Linked DNA regions of Homo sapiens. The protein of the gene in region 1 interacts with the protein of each later gene in a biochemical or structural test. Each region holds a gene or a part of one and is shown on either strand. Other genes may lie near its edges.

Evidence for each region.
Region 2: the proteins of PEBP1 (region 1) and BRAF form a complex in vitro, tested with the Homo sapiens proteins (one study listed by BioGRID).

The regions. Positions count from the first base shown.
Region 1 is NC_000012.12:118,142,330-118,146,130, reverse strand, and holds the end of PEBP1 (phosphatidylethanolamine-binding protein 1), read right to left. Parts: intron 1,546-3,801; coding exon 1,328-1,545; 3' UTR 547-1,327; downstream 1-546.
Region 2 is NC_000007.14:140,736,110-140,739,929, forward strand, and holds part of BRAF (serine/threonine-protein kinase B-raf), read right to left. Parts: coding exon 3,703-3,820; intron 1-3,702. UniProt on the Homo sapiens protein: Protein kinase involved in the transduction of mitogenic signals from the cell membrane to the nucleus. Phosphorylates MAP2K1, and thereby activates the MAP kinase signal transduction pathway. Phosphorylates PFKFB2.

The DNA.
Region 1 (3,801 bases):
GCCTGATTCAGGACCCCCCCCTTTGCATCGCAGAGACCAAATCACAGTGATTTGCACCTTCAAACACCTCCTTTCCTTTCTTTCGGTACATCAGATGGCATGAGACCGTGACCTTCTCACCCTCCTACCCTGCGCACCTCTTTGGTACTGAGCCTCTGTGGATAACACATCAGAACGGGAAGTGCAGGCTACTTCTTAGGCATTGTTACGGTGTCCGCGCCAGACTTCACCAAGGGGGAAGGTTTTCAGCCATCTTCTTTAGAACATCCTTCTTGGGTCAAAAGGACCACTTGAAGCAAAGGTGCTTTTTGGGCAATAAGACTCGGCCTCACATTTTATGATTTTTTTTTTAGAAACCTCAAATCTGAACTGTTTGCTCCTGCTGTGGGTTAATGGCACATGTAGAGGCACAGACCCTCCATATGGCCCCTAGAACAAGTCCCAGCTGTTACTTGCTGGTCACGGAGACGACTCACCCTGAGACTTGACTTCTCACACTTATGAAACCTATACCCAATAGAACAAAACATCCGGGGACTCAGTTCCTTCATTCAGGTTTCTATTTTTATTCAACTACAAGCAAACAGCACAATTAATGCAACATTCAGCAACTCCAGACCAGCTTTTCTTACCCCCATGAAGAACGATCAATTTAAAAAACACAGATCTCAGGTTTCCTCCCAAGCTGTCAGCGAGCGCTGCTACCGGTCTAGATTGCCATGTCCCAACAACAGCAAAGCCACCCTCCCTCCTGCTTCTTCCAGGATTGCTCTTTAAAGGGACCAGAGTGACATACTGATGCCTACTGAGGCATCTGAGATGCACTGTGTTGGAGGTTAGCCTCAATGCCAGCCTCTGGTTGTCTAGGTGAGTGACATCACCATAAAATCACATTGTGTACCATTCTGGACTCAGGATCACAAAGGCAGAGGCAACCAATCTTTTTTTTTTTTTTTTTTTTTAAACCTCCCTTAAAGATTCTTTGATGCTTTGCTCTATCACTGTAGACCTGGTCTTTTTCCCCCCAGTTTTTTCTTTTTTACATTCTGGGTTGCTATTTTCAGATTAATAATTTGATGACCCCATCACAGTACCAAAATACCCCCCAAAATGAAGTTCAAATTTGATCAAAACATAAATCAGAGTGAGTGAGTAAAATTATAAAGGCCAGGCAGCAGGAAAAGTCACCCTCAACTACCATCTGACTGGTCAGGTCTCACCCATGCCAAGGGGGGCAGGAAGAGGAGAAATCTATTATACATGCAACACTGAACTGGGGAACATGGCTTGGGGCCTCCAGGACAGTTCAGGTCCCCAAGCTAACCCCCTACTTCCCAGACAGCTGCTCGTACAGTTTGGGCACATAGTCATCCCACTCGGCCTGGTAACACGTGCCAGCCACCGGGGCCCTGAGCTCATACTTTTTACGGAAGGACGCCACCTTGAATTTGCCACGGTGGTCTCCAGATCGGTTGCTGAGGATGGGCTCGTCACACTTTAGCGGCCTGTCCTGCTCGTAAACCAGCCAGACATAGCGGTGGAGGCCTGTGGGGAGAGGCAGAGGGAAGATGTACACACAGCCCAGCACTTGAGATGGGGACATCATCCATTTTTATCGAATGTTTCAACATGGAGGCACCCAGACCACACCATTTACAAGGAGGACACCGAGGGTCCAGACAGGTATTTGGTGCAAATTAACATTTAATGGCAATTAACACATTAATGGCAAAAACCGCAATTACTTTTGCATCAACCTAATAGAATGTGTTAGGCCCCTGCTGTAACTGGTGTCAAGCCCAAGCCCTTAGTTCCAGCCTCTCCTGGCCTGTGGGATCTGGCCTCTGCACCCCCTTATCCTCGCCTCCCAACGAGCCTCTGTGCTCTTCATTCATCCCACTTCAGGCTCCCGGACCTTCTCAAGTCACCACCCACCACCCCCCATCAGAACACCCATTTCACTTCTGTCAGGTAGGAGCAACCAATTAAGGACAAAGCAAATCAATGACCCGGGCCCACCATACCACAGTCGAGCCTCTAGGATAAAGGAGAACATTTTCTTTCTACCTCCAAAATTTACTTGCTTAGAAAACTGGAGGACTACTTCGAAGTGACCCAACCTCACTTTAACTAAGCAGCTTTCTACAAGCTTCAATGATGTACTGGATGCAAATAGGTACCATGAGCTCTTATTTTTTTAAAAAGTGGGTTTTTTTTTTTTTTTTGAGACGGAGTCTCACTCTGTTGCCTAGGCGTGGAGTGCAGTGGCATGATCTCGGCTCACTACAACCTCAGCCTCCTGGGTTCAAGCAATTCTCCTGCCTCAGCCTCCTGAGTAGCTAGGATTACAGGTACGTGCCACCACGCCCAGTTATGTTTTGTTTTGTTTTGTTTTTGTATTTTTAGTAGAGACCAGGTTTCACCATGTTGGCAAAACTCCTGACCTCAAGTGATCCACCCATCTCGCCCTCCCAAAGTGCTGGGATTACAGCTGTGAGCCACTGCACCCGGCCAGAAACAAAGTTATTTTTTAAAAAGTTGTTTAAATATTTGCACACCCATGTTCAATGCAGCAGTATTCACAATAGCCAAGAAGCAGAAGCAACCCGACTGTCCACTGATGGATGAAAAGATGATCAGAATGTGGTTTATACACACAACAGAATATTATCCAGCCTTTTATTTTTTCTTTACTCCCCTGTGTTACTCTAGGACTATTCAGCCTTAAAAAGAAATTCAGACACATGCTACACCAGAGAACCTTGAGAACATTACATTAGTGAAATTAGCCAGTCGCAAGACAAATACTGTACAATTCCACGAGGTATCTAAAGTAGACAAACACTGCAACAGAAAGTGGAATGGTGGCTGCCAGGGCTAGGGGAAGGGAAATGGGGAGCTGTTGGTCAATGGGGACAGGGTTTCTGTTGGGGAAGATGAAAAATCTAGAGATCTGTTTCACAACAATGTGAATGTAGTGGTCGGGCATGGTAGCTCACATTTATAATCCCAGGACTTTGGGAGGCCAAGGTGGGAGGGTCACCTGAGCCCAGGAGGAATTTGAGACCAGCTTGGGCAATATGGCGAAACCCCGTCTCTACTAGAAATACAAAAATTTGCTGGATGTGGTAGGTAGCCTGTGCCTGTAGTCCCAGCTTCTCGGGAGCCTGAGGTAGGAGGGTTGCTTGAGCCCAGGAGGTGAGCTGAGCCCTGCAGTGAGCTGAAAACGTGCCACTGTGCTCCAGCCTAGGGGACAGAGTAAGACCCTATCTCAAAAAAAAAAAAAAAAAAAAAAAAAAAAAAAGTGAATGTAGTTAACGCTACTGTAGTGTACACTTAAAAATGGTTAAGATGGAGGGGGCGCAGTGGCTCACACCTGTAATCCCAGCACTTTGAGAGGCTAAGGCAGGTGGATCACTTGAGGTCAGGAATTTGAGACCAGCTTGGCCAAGATGGTGAAACCCCGTCTCTACTAAAAATATAAAAATTAGCCAGACATGGTGGCACGTGTCTGTAATCCTAGCTACCCAGGAGGCTGAGGTGGGAGGATCACTTGAACCTGGGAGGTGGAGGCTGAAGTGAGCTGAGATCACACCACTGCACTCCAGCCTCAAAAAAAGAGTTAAGATGGTAAATTTTGCCAGGCATGGTGGCTCTTGCCTGTAATCCCAGCACTTTGGGAGGCTGAGGTGGGCAGATCATCTGAGCTCAGGAGTTCAAGACCAGCCTGCCCAACATGGAGAAACCCTGTCTCTACTAAAAGTAAAAAAAATTAGCCGGGTGTGATGGTGGACACCTGTA
Region 2 (3,820 bases), on another chromosome or scaffold:
GTCCAGGCTGGAGTGCAGTGGCGCGATCTCAGCTCACTGCAACCTCCGCCTCCCAGGTTCAAGCGATTCTCCTGCCTCAGCCTCCCGAGTAGCTGGGATCACAGGCGTGTGCCACCACGCCCGGATAATTTTGTATTTTTAGTAGAGACGGGTATCACCATTTTGCCCAGGCTGGTCTCGAACTCCTAACCTCAACTGATCCACCCACCTTGGCCTCCCAAAGTGCTGGGATTACAGGTGTGAGTCACTGCGCCTGGCCTCTTCAGTACCTTTTTTTATGTATAAAAATACATACATGAAAACAAGGCCCACCTGAACACCACTTTTTTTTTTTGGAGATGGAATTTCACTCTTGTTGCCCAGGCTGGAGTGCAATGGTGCGATCTCGGCTCACCGCAACCTCCGCCTCCTGGGTTCAAATGATTTTCCTGCCTCAGCCTCCCGAGTAGCTGGGATTACAGGCATGTGCCACCACGCCTGGCTAATTTTGTATTCTTAGTAGAGTCAGAGTTTCTCCATGTTGGTCAGGCTGGTTTCGAACTCCCAACCTCAGGTGATCCGCCTGCCTCGGCCTCCCAAAGTGCTGGGATTACAGGCGTGAGCCACCGTGCCTGGCCTCTGTTTAACCTTTTAAAGTGGTTATCAGGCTGGGCACTGGGGCTCACGCCTGTAATCCCAGCACTTTGGGAGGCTGAGGCGAGAGGATCGCTTGAGGCCAGGAGTTCAAGACCAGCCAGGGCAACATAGTGAGAATCTATCTCTACAACCACCACCACCACCACCACAAGAAATTAGCTGGGTGTGGTGATAGGCACCTGCAATCCCAGCTACTTAGGAGGCTGAGGTGAGAGGATCGCTTGAGCCCAGGAGTTTGAGGCTGCAGTGGGCTATGATCATATTACTGCACTCCAGCCTGGGCAACAGAACAGGCCCAGCCTATAAAAAAAAAAAATGAGGTATCATACTACATTTTGTTTTCTGTCTTGTTTTCTTTTTCTCTCACCAATATCCATGTCATCAATACAAAACTAACTTAATCTTAATGTCTTTTTCTTATTATAGTAAACATTCTTATATATATCTGAATACTTATGAAATAGGTTACATAGCACAGATTTTTAGAAGTATTTTGAATTTATGGATTCTACCAAGGTCTTCCAAAATGCTGCCTTCCACCAAACCTTTAAAATTTTACATAGAATGCTCCTCCTCACTTCCCAACATTGTTCCCAGTGCTGGATATTACCAACCTGAGAGGCGAAATTAAAATATATTTCACTGTTGTGTCTTTGCATTTTACTGACTGCCATGGAAATATTTACACCTTTTCCTAAGTTCATTCACCATTTGTATTTATTATGTGAATCACCTGTTCATATTCCCTTTGCCCATTTTCTATTGTTTGTTACTTATTGATTTGGAGGAGTCCTTTGTATATTATAAACATTTACTTTTTGTTATATATGCTACAATTATTCTTTTTATCTTTCAATGTTATTTTTCTATATAGAAGTTTAAAAATTTTTAATGTACTCACATCTGCTAATTTTTTCCTTCTGAATTTTGTCTATTAAGAAAGCCTTTCCTACCTCAAAACTATAAAAATGATTTCATATTTTATAAAACATATAGATCTTCAGCCATCTAAAATTTATGTGGCATATAACAGTATGGTGTGAAAAGATATCCTGTAACAAAAATTTCAAAATAACACTTTAAAGGGATAGCCTCCAATAATCTGGAAAGTTCACATATGCACTTCAGTTTTTGAAACCATGTAATTAATGAAATGTTATATTTAGAAGTATGGAGCTAAGCATTTTGCCCCTTTTAATATCATTTAAAAAGTGGGCCTAAGGATGTACTTTGCATTATTAATGTCAATAAACATTCTAAGTAAGAACCCGAGCACCATGACGTGAAAAGAGAACATGGGACAGGGTCATGCTGAAGCTGCTCAGCAGCACTTGTCTCTCACCAGGACAGTCTCAACCCAGAGGTTTCCTGACTTAGAGAAACAAATAAAAAAATAAAAAGAAAAAATAAAAACTCTTCCTCAAAGGAACAGTAACTTTGAAACCTGATAAATGAAACTTATATCTACCCAGCCAACCACTTAGCTTTCCCTTTCTTTTCTTAGGCAACACCCTGACAGACTTGTTAAAACCATCAATTTTATCTTCTTTCATTCTTTAGAGAAGAATAACATTTTTTAGATTTAAAAATAAAGGATGAGTGAATCTAATTCCTGTAACATTGACTTCTGTCTGAGTTACTCAGCTAGGACTGGGCATTCAAAGGCCTAAGAGTTCATACATGAACACTCCAGTAATTATGGTAGCAGGGTTACTATGGGAAATAGCACTTCCCACTTGAAACTGTACTGATTCATCAAGGCATATTTATCCAGTGCTATCAGGAGCTCCCTAAGTATCAGAAAACATTGCATTTATATTATAATATCTACTACAGCTAAACTCTGTAAGCTAGTTGAGGTATTTAGATATTTTTGTTTTGTTTTGTTTTAAACAGAGTCTCATTCTGTTGCCCTGGCTGGAATGCAGTGGTGTCATCTCAGCTCATTACAATCTCCACCTCCTGGGTTCAAGCGATTCTCATGTCTCAGCCTCCTGAGTGGCTGGGATTACAGGCTCCTGCCACTATGCCCAGCTAATTTTTGTATTTTTAGTAGAGACGGTTTTCACCATGTTGGCCAGGCTGGTCTCGAACTCCTGACCTCAACTGATCTGCCTGCCTTGGCCTCCCAAAGTGTTGAGATTTGTAAGCCACGACACCTGGCCTTAGTTACAGTTCTTTTTGAAATTTGTTAACTTAAGGCTTTATCCTTCCAATATGGAAAAAAAAAAAAAAAAGCAGTGAGTTATCAAGAATTAGGTAAAGGCAGGCTGAGCTGACAAATGCCTTACTGCCTTTTCCTTTTTCTGCATCAGGCAGAAATGCCCCTCAAAAAGACCCAGTATTAAAGGAAAGCTTGAATCTGTTTACCACCAAGAAGAAATAAAGCAGTGGTTCACAAAATGTGGTCCGTGGACCACCAGGGGATCCACGAGGTCAAAACTATTTTTGTAATAACAATAAGATATCATTTGCCTTTTTTACTGTCATTATTTTACAAGCGTTAAGTAGAGTTTTTAGGGGTGACATGATGTGAGATATTGCAATGTGAGTGCAAAAGCGGAGAATCCAGCTGTCTTCTTTTTGCAAAGGGATTTGCAAAAAAAGTAAAACAATACAACTCCTCACTAATTTTTTTCTCTTAGATAATAGAACTGTTTTTTTCTAAATATTATTTAACATATTGGTTTACTATGTTTAATTCATTAATATTTTAAAAAATAGTTTTAATTTCTAATAAGGAATTAAAACTTATATAAACAAAAGCTCTTTGTGGGGGGGGGGGTCTTCGATAATTTTTAAATGTGTAAAAGAGTTCAAAGACTGAGAAGTCTGAGAACTGATGGACAAATGCAAAGTCTTTCTGAATATTTTGTATTAGGACCCAAAATTTCTAGGTGTGCCACTGCTCAACCCTCATGAAGCCATCTTAATGTGTTTTCTTGTCTGGAGTCTGCACATAGAATCCAAACTCATGAAATACACACTGTGTGCCCAAAAAAGTGCTCAGAAATCTGTCTATGAATGTTAGTCTGTTCTTTTGGATAGCATGAAGCTTTTACTTACTTGGGGAAAGAGTGGTCTCTCATCTCTTTTCTTTTTGAGGCACTCTGCCATTAATCTCTTCATGGCTTTTGGACAGTTACTCCGTACCTTACTGAGATCTGGAGACAGGTATCCTCGT